Linked DNA regions of Homo sapiens: region 2 is linked to region 1. The links come from fine-mapping of genetic effects on gene expression. Tissue or cell type: naive CD8 T cells. Region 1 holds a variant in brackets; the other region holds the start of a gene. All regions are shown on one strand. Distances are between the middles of the regions.

Region 1 (8,175 bases):
CCAGAGGACCCTACAGCCTCCCTGGCAGCAGTTCCGCCAGCATTTCTGTAAATGCCCTCATGCCAGGGTGCGGCCCGGCTGTCAGCACGAGAGGGACGTTGGTCTGTCCCCTGGCACCGAGTCAGTCAGAAGGGTGGCCAGGGCCCCCTTGGGCCCCTCCAGAGACAATCCACTGTGGTCACACGGCTCGGTGGCAGGAAGTGCTGTTCCTGCAGCTGTGGGGACAGGGAGTGTGGATGAAGCCAGGCTGGGTTTGTCTGAAGACGGAGGCCCCGAAAGGTGGCAGCCTGGCCTATAGCAGCAGCAACTCTTGGATTTATTGGAAAGATTTTCTTCACGGTTCTGAGTCTTGGGGGTGTTAGAGGCTCAGAACCAGTCCAGCCAGAGCTCTGTCATGGGCACGTAGACCCGGTCCCAGGGCCTTTGCTCTTTGCTGTCCTCAGAGGCCTCTGCAAAGTAGAAACAGGCAGCCTTGTGAGTCCCCTCCTGGGAGCAACCAACCCTCCCTCTGAGATGCCCCGGGGCCAGGTCAGCTGTGGTGAAAGGTAGGGATGCAGCCAGCTCAGGGGAGTGGCCCAGAGTTCCTGCCCACCCAAGGAGGCTCCCAGGAAGGTCAAGGCACCTGACTCCTGGGCTGCTTCCCTCCCCTCCCCTCCCCAGGTCAGGAAGGTGGGAAAGGGCTGGGGTGTCTGTGACCCTGGCAGTCACTGAGAAGCAGGGTGGAAGCAGCCCCCTGCAGCACGCTGGGTCAGTGGTCTTACCAGATGGATACGCAGCAACTTCCTTTTGAACCTTTTTATTTTCCTGGCAGGAAGAAGAGGGATCCAGCAGTGAGATCAGGCAGGTTCTGTGTTGCACAGACAGGGAAACAGGCTCTGTCCACACAAAGTCGGTGGGGCCAGGATGAGGCCCAGTCTGTTCACACATGGCTGCTGCCTCTCAGCTCTGCACAGACGTCCTCGCTCCCCTGGGATGGCAGCTTGGCCTGCTGGTCTTGGGGTTGAGCCAGCCTCCAGCACTGCCTCCCTGCCCTGCTGCCTCCCACTCTGCAGTGCTCCATGGCTGCTCAGTTGGACCCACGCTGGAGACGTTCAGTCGAAGCCCCGGGCTGTCCTTACCTCCCAGTCTGGGGTACCTGCCACCTCCTGCTCAGCAGGAATGGGGCTAGGTGCTTCCTCCCCTGGGGACTTCACCTGCTCTCCCTCCTGGGATAAGACGGCAGCCTCCTCCTTGGGGGCAGCAGCATTCAGTCCTCCAGGTCTCCTGGGGGTCGTGACCTGCAGGAGGAATAAGAGGGCAGACTGGGCAGAAAGGCCTTCAGAGCACCTCATCCTCCTGTTCTCACACTGGGGTGTCACAGTCCTGGGAAGTTCTTCCTTTTCAGTTGAGCTGTGGTAACCTTGTGAGTTTCCTGGAGGGGGCCTGCCACTACCCTTGGGACTCCCTGCCGTGTGTCTGGGTCTAACTGAGCTCTGAAAGGAGAGAGCCCCAGCCCTGGGCCTTCCAGGGGAAGCCTTACCTCAGAGGTTGGCTTCTTCCTACTCTTGACTTTGCGTCTCTGCAGAGGGAGGTGGGAGGGGTGACACAACCCTGACACCCACACTATGAGTGATGAGTAGTCCTGCCCCGACTGGCCCATCCTTTCCAGGTGCAGTCCCCCTTACTGTGTCTGCCAAGGGTGCCAGCACAGCCGCCCCACTCCAGGGGAAGAGGAGTGCCAGCCCTTACCCACCTGAGTGGGCACAGTGTAGCATTTATTCATTAGCCCCCACACTGGCCTGACCATCTCCCCTGTGGGCTGCATGACAAGGAGAGAGAACAGGCTGAGGTGAGAGCTACTGTCAACACCTAAACCTAAAAAATCTATAATTGGGCTGGGCAGGGTGGCTCACGCCTGTAATCCCAGCACTTTGGGAGGCCGAGATGGGTGGATCACCTGAGGTCAGATGTTCGAGACCAGCCTGGCCAACATGGTGAAACCCCGTCTCTACTAAAAATACAAAAAATTAGCTGGGCGTGGTGGTGGGTGCCTGTAATCCCAGCTACTCAGGAGGCTGAGGCAGGAGAATTGCTTGAACCTGGGAGGCAGAGGTTGCAGTGAGCCGAGATCACACCATTGCACTCCAGTCTGGGTGATAAGTATGAAACGCCATCTCCAAAACAAAAGAAAAGCCTAATTCCCCAAGAACTGTCAGTCTTTCACCTGTCTGCTAGCTCCCAGGGAGACCCCACTTGCCAGGGCTGTCTACATTTGTCCTGAGATCTCTTCTGGTGAGAACAGCACTTTCCTCAGGAAAGTTTGTTGAAAGTCATCAGATCCATGATTGAAAATCGAAGCTGCCTGTGGTGATGGATAACAGCTGGGGTTAAAAAGCAGCAGCTGGGGCATGAGCGGTCCACAGTGAGTTTTTGTTGTTTTTGTTTTTTTGGGTGGGGGATGGGGTCTTGCTAGGTCTCAAACTCCTGGCCTCAAGTCATCCTCCCATTACAGCCTTCTGAGTCACTGACACTACAGGTGTGAGCCACCATGTCCAGCTTGTAGTGGTTTTGAACAGCTCTTGCCCCTTCTTGGGAATCTAGGTGCCCTGCACGTGGGTAAGGCTGTCTGCAGCTGTGCCCATATTCAGGAAGGCCGGCAAGGCCCTGAGCCCTCACACGTGACTGACCTGAGGTGCTGTGCAGACAGCAGGTGACGGCTAAGGGAAAGTTGAGCACTGCCTAGCCGAGCACTGAAGCCACGCCCGGCACACAGAGAGAGACCCACTCGGCAAAGACTTCGCTTCCAGGCACCTAAGGAACTCTCTGACCAGTCATTAGCTGACCACTGCCGTAACTGAAGAGCGGCTTCAGTGGCCACAGCTCGCAGGGAATGGAGACATTAATGCTTAGTCAGAATTAGTTCAGAAAAGTCACCCAGCAAAGAAACAGCTCCAACAGGCAACAACAACAACACATCCTTGGCAGGGAAGAGAATCTGACTTCCGGAGTTGCCACATTATCGCCCGTGAAATGTCCAGGTTTTAACAAATTATGAGACATGGAAAGGAAACCGAAAGGACGACCCAGACACGGGAAAAGTCACCAATGGGACCAGCCCGATGCTGCAATTGCTAGACAAAGACGTTCAGTCAGCTCATTTAAATATGTTCAAAGACCTAAAACATGCTGCATCTGAGGCTGCACCGGCTGGAACCTGCTGATCTCGGAAGCTAAGCATGGTCAGGCCTGGCTAGTACTTCAAAGGGAGAAACCACGTGTAGGCCTGGTGCAGTGGCTCACACCTATAATCCTAGCACTCTGGGAAGCTGAGGCCCGTGGATTGCTTGAGCCCAGGAGTTTGAGAGCAGCTTGGGAAATGTGGTGAGACCCCCATCTCTACAAAAAAATTTAAAAAATTAGCTGGCTGCCTATGGTCCCAGCCTCTCAGGATGCTGAGGTAGGAGGATCACTTCAGCCCAGGAAGTTGAGGCTGCAGTGAGCCATGACTGCATCACTGCACTCCAGCTTGGGCGACAGAGAGACCCTCTCCCAAGAAAAAGAAAAGAACCATGTCAAAAGAACTAACGAAAGTGTGGGAACAATGTCTCACCAATTAGAGAATATCAATAATGGGATGAACCTTATAAAAAGGGGCTGGGCATGGTGGCTCATGCCTATAATCCCAGCACTTTGGGAGGCTGAGGCGGGCATATCATGAGGTCAAGAGATTGAGACCAGCCTGGCCAACATGGTGAAACCCCGTCTCTACTTAAAATACAAAAATTAGCCGGGCGTGGTGGCACGTGCCTGTAATCCCAGCTACTCGGGAGGCTGAGGCAGGAGAATCGCTTGAACCCGAGAGGCAGAGATTGCAGTGAGCCGAGATTGCACCACTGCACTACAGCCTGGGTGACAGAGCGATACTCCAAAAAACAAAACAAAACAAAAAACAAAAAAAAAGTTTAAAAAGGAACCAAATAAAAATTCTGGAGTTGTAGGGTAAAATAAATGAAAATTCATCCCAGGGGCCCAAGAGCAGATTGGAACAATTGGAAGAAAGAGCCTGTGACTATGGAGAGAGGCCACCTGAGGTAGTACCCTCTGAGGAACAGGAACAAGCATGAAGAGCAATGCACAGAGATCCAGAGACCTGGAGACGCCGTCAAGCTTTCCGACATACACGCAATGGGAGTCCCAGGAAAGAAGACAGGGAGAAAGGAGTAAAGGAATAGTTGAAGAATTAATGGCTGAAAAACCTCCCAAATCTGATGAAAAATATTAATCTGTACATCCAAAAAGCTCATCAAACTCCAAGTAGGGTAAACTCAAAGAGATCTTCAGCCATACGCATCATCATAATCACTGTCAAAAGACAGATTTTTCTTTTTTTAGAATTTTAAATGTACCTTTTAATTTGCTCCTGGGGCAAAGAGCCAGGACTGGTACTAGAGCAGTGTCTGGGATGAGAAGAATTTAATAAAATGGGATTAGGTCCAATGGTTGGGTTAGGGGAGGCAACCTGCTCGG[G/A]AGGATCAGCCTCAACCTATCCATGCAGCAGGGCCTCCACCTGTCCCTCTCCGTAGTCCCACACCTGGAACCCAGAGCCATCTGCCTCTTCCCAGATCATGGCCGACAGCACTCCACCAGACTGCGGCTGGAGCAGGCACAGGATTCACTTATTGAGGGCTGTGGCCTGGCACAGATCATAGCCTATACCCAGGGACAGTTGTGTCACTTCTGCCACCACCACATCCGCCTTCTGCAGCCACATCAAGTACCACTCATGGATGAGCCCGTCACCCCCAGCGGACTTATCAACCCCGCGTCCAGCTCCACAGCCGCCACGTGCTCGGTGAGCACTGGCTCCAAGCATGGCAGCTGCCATACAATCCACCTGTAGAGGGCCCGGTCCTCCTGTCCTCAGTGGATGATCCCGTAGAAGTCCAGAGCTCGGCAGCTGCCCTCCCACAAAAGACAGGATTTTGAAAGCAGCAAGAGAGAAGAGACGTATCAGGTAGTCACAGTGGCTCAGGCCTGTAATCCCAGCACTTTGGGAGGCCCAGGTGGGAGGATCGCTTCACCCCAGGAATTCAAGACCAGCCTGGACAACTTGGAAGAACCCGGTCTCTACAAAAAATACAAAATTAGCTGGGATTGGGTGCGGTGGCTCATGCCTATAATCCCAGCACTTTGGGAGCCTGAGGTGGGTGGATCACCTGAAGTCAGGAGTTCAAGACTAGCCTGGCCAACATGGTGAAACCCTATCTCTACTGAAAATACAAAAAGCTAGACGTGGTGGCACACACCTGTAATCCCAGCTACTTAGGAGGCTGAGGCAGGAGAATTGCTTGAAGCCTAGAGGTGAAGGTTGTAGTGAGCCGAGATTGCATCATTGCACAATGGAGGGGAGCCACCAGCCTGGGCAACAAGAGGAAATCTCCGTCTCCAAAAAAAAAAAAAAAAAAAAAAGAATTAGGCTGGGTGGTGCCTGTAGTCCCAGCTACTTGGGAGGCAGGGGGTCCACTTGATGTCGAGACTGCAGTGAGCCATGATCCTGCCACTGCACTCCGGCCTGGGCAACAGAGTGAGACCCTGTCTAAAGAAAAAAAAAATAAAGCAACATATCCTGAACAAAGGATCCTCCATAACGTTCCCACCAGATTTCTAATCAGAAACATGGAGGCCAGAAAGCAGTGGAGGAGGACGACCCTCAGGCAGCCCGGGAGGATGTTGTCACAGGCTGGGGCAAGGGCCTTCCGGCTACCAACTGGGAGCTCTGGGAACAGCCCTGTTGCAAACAAGAAGCCATAGCCCGGCCAGAGCCCAGGAATGTGGGCTGGGCTGGGAGCAGCCTCTGGACAGGAGTGGTCCCATCCAGGAAACCTCCGGCATGGCTGGGAAGTGGGGTACTTGGTGCCGGGTCTGTATGTGTGTGTGACTGGTGTGTGTGAGAGAGAATGTGTGCCCTAAGTGTCAGTGTGAGTCTGTGTATGTGTGAATATTGTCTTTGTGTGGGTGATTTTCTGCGTGTGTAATCGTGTCCCTGCAAGTGTGAACAAGTGGACAAGTGTCTGGGAGTGGACAAGAGATCTGTGCACCATCAGGTGTGTGCATAGCGTCTGTGCATGTCAAGAGTGCAAGGTGAAGTGAAGGGACCAGGCCCATGATGCCACTCATCATCAGGAGCTCTAAGGCCCCAGGTAAGTGCCAGTGACAGATAAGGGTGCTGAAGGTCACTCTGGAGTGGGCAGGTGGGGGTAGGGAAAGGGCAAGGCCATGTTCTGGAGGAGGGGTTGTGACTACATTAGGGTGTATGAGCCTAGCTGGGAGGTGGATGGCCGGGTCCACTGAAACCCTGGTTATCCCAGAAGGCTTTGCAGGCTTCAGGAGCTTGGAGTGGGGAGAGGGGGTGACTTCTCCGACCAGGCCCCTCCACCGGCCTACCCTGGGTAAGGGCCTGGAGCAGGAAGCAGGGGCAAGAACCTCTGGAGCAGCCCATACCCGCCCTGGCCTGACTCTGCCACTGGCAGCACAGTCAACACAGCAGGTTCACTCACAGCAGAGGGCAAAGGCCATCATCAGCTCCCTTTATAAGGGAAGGGTCACGCGCTCGGTGTGCTGAGAGTGTCCTGCCTGGTCCTCTGTGCCTGGTGGGGTGGGGGTGCCAGGTGTGTCCAGAGGAGCCCATTTGGTAGTGAGGCAGGTATGGGGCTAGAAGCACTGGTGCCCCTGGCCGTGATAGTGGCCATCTTCCTGCTCCTGGTGGACCTGATGCACCGGCGCCAACGCTGGGCTGCACGCTACCCACCAGGCCCCCTGCCACTGCCCGGGCTGGGCAACCTGCTGCATGTGGACTTCCAGAACACACCATACTGCTTCGACCAGGTGAGGGAGGAGGTCCTGGAGGGCGGCAGAGGTGCTGAGGCTCCCCTACCAGAAGCAAACATGGATGGTGGGTGAAACCACAGGCTGGACCAGAAGCCAGGCTGAGAAGGGGAAGCAGGTTTGGGGGACGTCCTGGAGAAGGGCATTTATACATGGCATGAAGGACTGGATTTTCCAAAGGCCAAGGAAGAGTAGGGCAAGGGCCTGGAGGTGGAGCTGGACTTGGCAGTGGGCATGCAAGCCCATTGGGCAACATATGTTATGGAGTACAAAGTCCCTTCTGCTGACACCAGAAGGAAAGGCCTTGGGAATGGAAGATGAGTTAGTCCTGAGTGCCGTTTAAATCACGAAATCGAGGATGAAGGGGGTGCAGTGACCCGGTTCAAACCTTTTGCACTGTGGGTCCTCGGGCCTCACTGCTCACCGGCATGGACCATCATCTGGGAATGGGATGCTAACTGGGGCCTCTCGGCAATTTTGGTGACTCTTGCAAGGTCATACCTGGGTGACGCATCCAAACTGAGTTCCTCCATCACAGAAGGTGTGACCCCCACCCCCGCCCCACGATCAGGAGGCTGGGTCTCCTCCTTCCACCTGCTCACTCCTGGTAGCCCCGGGGGTCGTCCAAGGTTCAAATAGGACTAGGACCTGTAGTCTGGGGTGATCCTGGCTTGACAAGAGGCCCTGACCCTCCCTCTGCAGTTGCGGCGCCGCTTCGGGGACGTGTTCAGCCTGCAGCTGGCCTGGACGCCGGTGGTCGTGCTCAATGGGCTGGCGGCCGTGCGCGAGGCGCTGGTGACCCACGGCGAGGACACCGCCGACCGCCCGCCTGTGCCCATCACCCAGATCCTGGGTTTCGGGCCGCGTTCCCAAGGCAAGCAGCGGTGGGGACAGAGACAGATTTCCGTGGGACCCGGGTGGGTGATGACCGTAGTCCGAGCTGGGCAGAGAGGGCGCGGGGTCGTGGACATGAAACAGGCCAGCGAGTGGGGACAGCGGGCCAAGAAACCACCTGCACTAGGGAGGTGTGAGCATGGGGACGAGGGCGGGGCTTGTGACGAGTGGGCGGGGCCACTGCCGAGACCTGGCAGGAGCCCAATGGGTGAGGCTGGCGCATTTCCCAGCTGGAATCCGGTGTCGAAGTGGGGGGCGGGGACCGCACCTGTGCTGTAAGCTCAGTGTGGGTGGCGCGGGGCCCGCGGGGTCTTCCCTGAGTGCAAAGGCGGTCAGGGTGGGCAGAGACGAGGTGGGGCAAAGCCCTGCCCCAGCCAAGGGAGCAAGGTGGATGCACAAAGAGTGGGCCCTGTGACC
Region 2 (8,175 bases), 43 kb after region 1:
TGGGATTACAGGCATGCACTACCATGCCCAGCTAATTTTCCTATTTTTAGTAGAGAGGAGGTTTTACCACGTTGGCCAGGCTGGTCTCAAACTCCTGAACCCAAGTGATCTACTGGCCTTGGCCTCTCAAAATGCTGGGATTACAGGTGTGAGCCACCGTGACTGGCTGTGTCTGCCTTTTTCACTCTAGCCATTCTACTGGGTGAGAAATGGTATCTCACGAGGGTTTTGATTTTTATTTCCCTAATGGCTCATGATGTTGAATGTCTTTTCATGTACTTATTGGTCACCCGTATATCCTCTTTGGAGAAATGGTTATTCAAATACTTTACCCATTAAAATAAAAATTTCATCTTTAAGAGCAGTTTCGAGTTCACAGCAAAACTGAACAGAAAATACAGGGTTCCCCCACCCCACACACACTCATAGCCTCCCCCCACCAACAACATCAGGCACCAGAGGATATATTTGTTATAAGCAATGAAGCTACATTGACACACCAGTATCACCCATATCCCATAGTTTACATTAGGTTTCATTCTTGGTGTTGTACATCCTGTAGGGTTTGACAAATGTGTAATAACATGTATCCACCATTATAACATCCAGAGTAATTTCACTACCCTAAATATTCTCTGTGCACCACCTCTGTGCATTTCTCCCCACTCCCAGCCCCTGCCATCTTTTTTATTGTCTCCATAGTTTTGCCTTTTCCAGGATGTAATATAGTTGGAATCATACAGTATGTAGCTCTTTCAGATTGTCTTCTTTCACTTACTAATATGCATTTAAGGTTTCTCCATGCCTTTTCATGGCTTAATAGCTCATTTCTTTCTAGTGCTGAATATAGTCCATTGTCTGGATATACCAAGGTTTATTTATCCATTTACCTGCTAAAGGACATCTTGGTTGCTTTCAAGTTTTGGCAATTACAAATAAAGCTGCTGCTGGCCGGGAGCGGTGGCTCACGCCTGTAGTCCCAGAACTTTGGGAGGCCAAGGCGGGCAGATCACGAGGTCAGGAGATCGAGACCATCCTGGCTAACATGGTGAAACCCCGTCTCTACTTAAAATACAAAAAATTAGCTGGGCTTCGTGGCAGGCGCCTGTAGTCCCAGCTACTTGGAGGCTGAGGCAGGAGAATGGCGTGAACCCAGGAGGCAGAGCTTCCAGTGAGCCGAGATCGCGCCACTGCACTCCACCCTGGGTGACAGAGCGAGACTCCATCTCAAAAACAAAAACAAAAACAAAAGCTGCTGTAAACATCCATGTGCAGGTTTCTGTGTGGACATAAGTTTTCAGCTCATTTGGGTAAACACTAAGGAATGCAATGGCTGGATCTTCTGATGGGAGTATGTTTAGTTTTGTCAGAAAGCCAAACTGTCTTCCAAAGCTGCTGTACCATTTTGCGTTCCTACCAGTAAGGAGAGTTCCTGTTGCTTCACATCCTCACCAGCATTTGGTGTTGTCTCCCTTGCCCATTTCTAAACTTGGCTATTTGTCTTTTCATTACTGAGTTGTAAGAATTTTATGTATCCTAGATACAAGTCCCTTATGGAACATGTGATTTGCAAAAATTTTCTCCCAGTTTGTGGGTTGTTTAGAGGTCTTTTTTTTCTTTTCCTTTTGAGACAGGGTCTCACTCTGTCGCCCAGACTGGAGTCCAGCGGCGCAATCTTGGCTCACCGCAACCTCCACCTCGCGGGCTCAAGCGATCCTCCTGCCTCAGCCTCCCGAGTAGCTGAGATTACAGGTGCCCACCACCATGCCGGCTAATTTTTGTATTTTTAGTAGAGACGGGGGTTTCACCATGTTGGCCAGGCTGGTCTCGAACTCCTGACATCAGGTGATACACCTGCCTTGGCCTCCCAAAGTGTTGGGATTACAGGAGTGAGCCACTGCGCCCCATTTTTTTTTTGAATGTTGAACACAATGAATTTATCATGATAGTGGGTACTTCTGAAGGAGGCAGGGGTATACACAAGGTTAGAATCATACAGGTAGATATCATGGTATAGGTGCTGCGAGAGTCAGAAAACTGACTCTGGCACCAGCTGCCTGGGCTTCAACCCCAATGCTGTAAAGTAACTTAGTCTCTTTGTGCCTCAGTTTTCTCATCTATAAAATGAGTATATCAGCCGGGGGCAGTGGCTCACACCTGTAATCCCAGCACTTTGGGAGGCTGAGGTGGGTGGATCACCTGAAGTCAGGAGTTTGAGACCAGCCTGGCCAACATAGCAAAACCCCGTCTCTACTAAAATACAAGCATTAGCCATGCATGGTGGTGCGCACCTGTAATCCCAGCGATTCGGAAAGCTGAGGCAGGAGAATGGCTTGAACATGAGAGGCGGAGGTTGCAGTGAGCCGAGATTGCACCATTGCAGTCCAGCCTAGGTGAGTCTCACTCTGTCTCAAAAAAAAAAAAAAAAAAGGGTATATCAACACAATCTCACTGGTGTGTTGTGAAGCCTAGCCAAGTTAATGTACCTAGAGAACTAGAGAACAGTGGCTACTAAGGACATCTAAGGACACTTTATACAAACCTTAACTGTGTTACAACTTCTTAAGTCAGTACTGAGGTTCAAAAGCTTCCATTTTATTATTATGCTTTATAATTTATATATGTTACGTGCTTTCTTTTGTATAGCTCACTTGAATATATATATACATTTTAGAAGATAATAAGGAAGAAAAAAAGTATATCTGGTTTTTTAACCCTTCGAAATGGGAAAGTTTGGAGTAGATGCTCAGCCCCGGCCCCTGGCCCTTCCCCAATACTCACAGGCTCCTGTCAACTACACCTTCAGAAAAAGACGGAGCCTCTTAGGCAGCAGTCAGGCAGGTGGGGGCGATCTGTCAGGTGACCTAGACTCTGGGCCATCTCAGTTTCCTCACCTGTAAAATGGGGATGCTGAGGTACCTACCTGACCTATGAGAGCGGAGAACACTGAGATATCTTGCCCATGGCCTGCCCTGTGGTTAGCTGTCGTTTTTTCCTTGACACTTGTAGGCTCCTCTTCATGTTTACATAACCTCAGTGGGAAAACGCCAGCGAAGAGAGACACTCAGAATGGACGATCTAAAGTTCCTTCCAGCTTCCAAATTCTGGGCTGGTTTTCAGAGATCCAGGGCTCGGGATGCGAATGTCCCTGTCTACGATGGGGCTGCCGTTACAGCCTTCCTCCCGGGGCTCTGGAGACGCGCCAGCTCTTTGACACCTCTCCTGCGCTAAGGAAGAGTTGGTTTACAGAAAAGTAAGTATATCCTGGCCCTGCAGAAAGCCGCCAGGCGGCAGGACAAGCCCCACCGCAGCCCAGGCGCCATTATCTGCCTCAGCAGTTACCTCGGGGTCCCGCCACGAGGAGGTTCTTCAAGGCCTGCGCGCCCACGGACACTACCAAGGAGCGCGGCGGGCAGCCGGATAGCAGGACGCTGAGGGAAACCCCGCAGTCGCTCGGCGTCCCCGGCGCCAGCTCACGACCCAGCGACCTCCTGCGGCCCGAGCGTCCCCTGGCGGCAACGCCGGCTCGTTAGAGCGAGCGACAGATGGTGTAGTCCAAAGGCCAAGCGGCGTTTCTGTAGATGAGCATGCGCAGCACCCACCGTTCGCTCAGCCAGAGAGAGGCTTCCCAGCCAATCCGAGAGCCTCAGAGTCATCCTCCCGCCCACCCAGCATACAGGCGGGGCGTTCCTCCTTAGCCAATGGGAAAAGACATTCGCCCGCGGTCCGCACGCGCTGCTTGCAAAGGGGTGGGGTTGTGGAGTGGATGCTTTGGCAAGATGGCGGGGAGCGGCGTCCGCCAAGCTACTTCTACCGCCAGCACCTTCGTGAAGCCCATTTTCAGTCGGGACATGAACGAGGCCAAGCGGAGGGTGCGCGAGCTCTACCGCGCCTGGTATCGGGAGGTGCCGAACACTGGTGAGAGGTAGCGGCTTACGTGGGGACCCGGAGGCCGCCGCTCAAGGTCGTAGCCGGCCCGGCCGGGGTTTCTCATGGGCCCAGCTGAGGTCACCAACTTGGGCAGAGGCGACTGCGGGTGCTTCAGGGGAAGAGGGTCACCCGAGCCTACCATGGGCCGGACCTGGCGGCGGCGCGGTGGTCAGACCGGCCGTGCCTAGCATTCGTACGTGCTATCGGAGCTTTGGTCTCTTTTGTCCTTCGCAATTGGCGGGAGGACGATGACTGTCAGTGACACACTCACTTTGTGGGTGAGGCAGCGGAGGCACCGAGAGGTGAAGTGATGTGCCCAGGGCCCAGGCCGAGCCACTGTTGTACCCAGAACCCAAAGTCTAGAGTTGCAGAGTGTAATTATAGATGCCCGTTGGATTTTTTTGTTTGTGACAGAGTCTCGCTGTGTCGCTCAGGCTGGAGTGCAGTGGTGCGATCTCGGCTCACTGCAAGCTCCGCCTCCCGGATTCACGTCATTCTCCTGCCTCAGCCTCAGCCTCCCGAATAGCTGGGATTACAGGCGCCCGCCACCACGCCGGCCATTTTTTTTTGTATTTTTAGTAGAGACGGGATTTCACCGTGTTAGCCAGAATGGTCTCGATCTCCTGACCTCGTGATCCGCCCGTCTCGGCCTCCCAAAGTGCGAGAAAGAGGTGTTTTTGAGTGAGCTGGAGCACGGTGCCACTCCTCAGGGCTGTCGAGTCCCTGCTTGTGTGTGTGAAAAGGCGGTAGAATGTGGTGGTTAGGAGCACGGACTTTTCTTCAGGCGCTGCCCTCAACTAGCTGTGTGACCTTGGGCCAGTTATTTCATCTATTCCTCAGTTTCTTCATCTTTAAAATGGGAATAATAATTCCTTCTTCAGAAGGTTACTGTATTAAGTTAAAATATCTAGAGTGCTTAGAACAGGACTTGATGCATATTTAACTCATTAAATATTAGCTGCTGCCGTTGTTTTTGTTGTTATTTTTGTTATTTATAGGGCTTTCCTTAGCAGCAGCTTCCAAGCAGAACCCGGTTCTTTGACATATGAGAACTGTGTCTGCTCCACAGAGTCCCTGTCTTCAAGCTGACTTTTGGAAAAATTGCTACTGACCAGAACTTAAACCCACGCGATACTAGAGAAGGAGAAACTTGAGTGATCTGCTGGTTCAGGGACTGCAAATTCAGATGCCTTCAGGGGCAGGCAGATAAAAGATGTGTGTGGGGAGTGACTGTAGCAGTGTGTGTGTGTGTGTGTGTGTGTGTGTTTCGGGGTGGTGCATTCAAATTCAGCAGTTTGAAAACATAATGTTTGCCTGGCAGAATACTTCTAGGAGTACCCAGAACCCTCTCTGGTTGCAGGAGGAAGGTGCTGGGGGAAGGAGGACCACATTCAAAAAGGGTGGCTTGTGAAGGGTAAATCAGTGGCCAAGTAGAAGACAGAACCCAGGTATCCTGACTCTGAGGATCCAGCTCTTTCTAAACCGACCCCTCCCAAGACCTTCCCTCAAATTCTGTTTTGGGAAGAAAGTCCCAAAGTCAGAAGGGTCTTGAGAGGAGGAAAAGAAGGCAGAGGGCTACAGGAGCCTAGAAAGCAAGGGAAGAGGAGAGAAAAGAAGGGGTCAAGGAGTATGCATCCCTATGGGGAAGATCAGTGATCTGTAGCTGGCCAGTTACTCAAACCTGTGCCACACGGGTTTTATGGTATCCATCATCAGGACTCCAGCTGAGGAATCAAATCAAGGAAGGGGAATAAGTAATAGTGTTGAGAACTTAGAACAGCCTGAGCATTAATAAAAAACAAAAGTAAAATTTTAAGTATTTAATGAAAAAAACAGTAATGATAACTCACTTTTTTTTTTTTTTTTTTTTTTGAGACAGAGTCTCGCTCTTGTCTCCCAGGCTGGAGGGCAATGGCGCGATCTTGGCTCACTGCAACCTCCACCTCCCGGGTTCAAGTGATTTCCCCATGCCTCAGCCTCCCGAGTAGCTGGGATTATAGTTGCGTGCCACCACACCTGGCTAACTTTTGTATTTTTAGTAGAAACGGGGTTTCACCATGTTGGCCAGGCTGTCTTGAACTCCTGACCTCAGGTGATCCACCTGCCTTGGCCTCCCAAAGTGCTGGGATTACAGGCGTGAGCCACCGCGCCCAGCTAATAAAATAATAATTATTTTTTTTGAGACGGAGTCTCGCTCTGTCGCCCAGGCCGGACTGCGGACTGCAGTGGCGCAATCTCGGCTCACTGCAAGCTCCGCTTCCCGGGTTCACGCCATTCTCCTGCCTCAGCCTCCTGAGTAGCTGGGACTACAGGCGCCCGCCACCGCGCCCGGCTAATTTTTTGTATTTTTAGTAGAGACGGGGTTTCACCTTGTTAGCCAGGATGGTCTCGATCTCCTGACCTCATGATCCACCCGCCTCGGCCTCCCAAAGTGCTGGGATTACAGGCGTGAGCCACCGCGCCCAGCCTTTTTTTTTTTTTTTTTTTGAGACACAGTCTCACTCTGTCACCCAGGCTGGAATGCAGTGGCCCATCTCAGCTCACTGCACCCTCCACCTCCCGGGTTCAAGTGATTCTCCTGCCTCAGTCTCCCGAGTAGCTGGGATTACAGGCACCCACCACCATGCCCGGCTCATGTTTGTATTTTTAGTGGAGACGGGGTTTCACCATGTTGGCCAGGCTGGTCTTGAACTCCTGACCTCAGGTGATCCACCTGCCTTGGCCTCCCAAAGTGCTGGGATTACAGGCGTGAGCCACCGCGCCCAGCTAATAAAATAATTATTATTTTTTTTGAGACGGAGTCTCGCTCTGTCACCCAGGCTGGAGTGCAGTGGTGCGACCTCGGCTCACTGCAAGGTCCACCTCCCGGGTTCACACCATTCTCCTGCCTCAGCCTCCCGAGTAGCTGGAATTACAGGCACCCACCACCACACCCGGCTAATTTTTTGTATTTTTAGTAGAGACGGGGTTTCACTGTGTTAGCCAGGGTAGTCTCGATCTCCTGACCTCATGATCCGCCCACCTCGGCCTCCCAAAGTGCTGGGATTACAGGCGTGAGCCACCGCGCCCAGCCCATAAAATAATTTTTTAAAAAATACACTCAGGCACAAGAAAGTTAACTTACACGGGATCATATAGCTAACAAAAGCTGGGATTTGAACCCAGGTTGTTCAAACTCTTGAACAATGCTTTACTGCCTCTTCAAATTCAGTGGTCTTTTTCCCCAAACAAATAATAAGTTCCTTGAGAGCAAATACCATGAATCACATGTCTCATCCTCAAGCACCTAGCCTAGGGTCAGGCTAATTTTTTGGTGAAGAAATGAATGGGCGACCTGTATGTGTTCAATGAGTATCATTTGACTCTAGGTTTTATTTAACCATACAATTTCTACCCTGAGTCATGTTTTTCTCTCTAGTGCACCAATTCCAGCTGGACATCACTGTGAAAATGGGACGGGATAAAGTCCGAGAAATGTTTATGAAGAATGCCCATGTCACAGACCCCAGGGTGGTTGATCTTCTGGTCATTAAGGTAACTGACCCTCCCTGACCAATTTAAAAGATCAGCCAACTTGTCCACTACTTCTTAGTCTTTCCAAATGAACATTTTGTCTCCAAGTTTAGAAAGCAGCTACTGGTTCGGCAGTGATTATTGCTGTGTTTCAGAGAAATACTTGAACTTGGAGGTTATCATCTGGTTAAATAGATAAGATTCATCAAGGGAACATCCACTGGGACTTGCATTTTATAACCATAAAAAAAGATATAGGGAGGAAAGTTTGAACTCTTCTTGAACCTCATCCCTAGAAGTTACCACTTCATCTGAATGCCAGTTTACAGCTGGAAGAGGCAGTTAGGGTGGTTATGAGTCCTGTATAAATGGACTCAAATCCTGGGGCTGATTCTGTCCCCCTGGCCAGTCACGTTAGCATCAATGGGAGCTTCAGCATAGACCAGTCAGTAACAGAAGAAATGATAAGCAGAAACATAAGTTAAGCCAGTCAGGTTAGGTAGTCATGGGATAGGAGCCTGTTAACCTGTATGTTTCTCCTCTTGGTACCAGTTAACCACAGAGTTAAAGAATCTGAAAAGTGTCAGAAATGATTTACCCTGACCACCTCATTGTCCAGACATAGAAACTTTGCCCAGACAGAGTAGTTACTTGCCCAAGGTCATTCAACAAGTCCATGCTGAGCAGAGAATAGAATCCTGGCCTTCAGTGTCATATGCCTTCAACTTGACA

Direction of the effects. Positions count from the first base shown, and alleles are read on the strand shown. Sizes are in standard deviations (SD) of each study's normalised expression.
For the expression in naive CD8 T cells of the gene that starts at base 3,591 in region 2, allele G in region 1 goes with a lower level than allele A (large effect, 1.1 SD a copy in Schmiedel 2018).

The links. PIP is the estimated chance that this variant, and not a neighbour inherited with it, causes the effect.
Region 2: NDUFA6-DT starts here. The variant in region 1 is fine-mapped to the expression of NDUFA6-DT in naive CD8 T cells (Schmiedel 2018, PIP 0.95).

Annotation. Positions count from the first base shown.
Region 1 is chr22:42,129,301-42,137,475 of GRCh38, reverse strand. CYP2D6 (cytochrome P450 family 2 subfamily D member 6 (gene/pseudogene)) reads left to right here and starts at 6,666. Exons shown (of 9, transcript NM_000106.6): 1 at 6,666-6,864; 2 at 7,567-7,738. The coding sequence starts at 6,685. RefSeq lists enhancers at 65-652, 653-1,241, a cis regulatory region at 5,370-5,381 and promoters at 5,075-6,607, 6,194-6,660. The variant G/A (reference allele first, on the strand shown) is at 4,507.
Region 2 is chr22:42,086,349-42,094,523 of GRCh38, reverse strand. It overlaps NDUFA6-DT (NDUFA6 divergent transcript), which reads right to left and starts at 3,591. Exons shown (of 5, transcript NR_034118.2): 1 at 3,343-3,591; 2 at 2,924-3,227; 3 at 2,292-2,405. NDUFA6 (NADH:ubiquinone oxidoreductase subunit A6) reads left to right here and starts at 3,752. Exons shown (of 3, transcript NM_002490.6): 1 at 3,752-3,918; 2 at 7,349-7,464. The coding sequence starts at 3,780.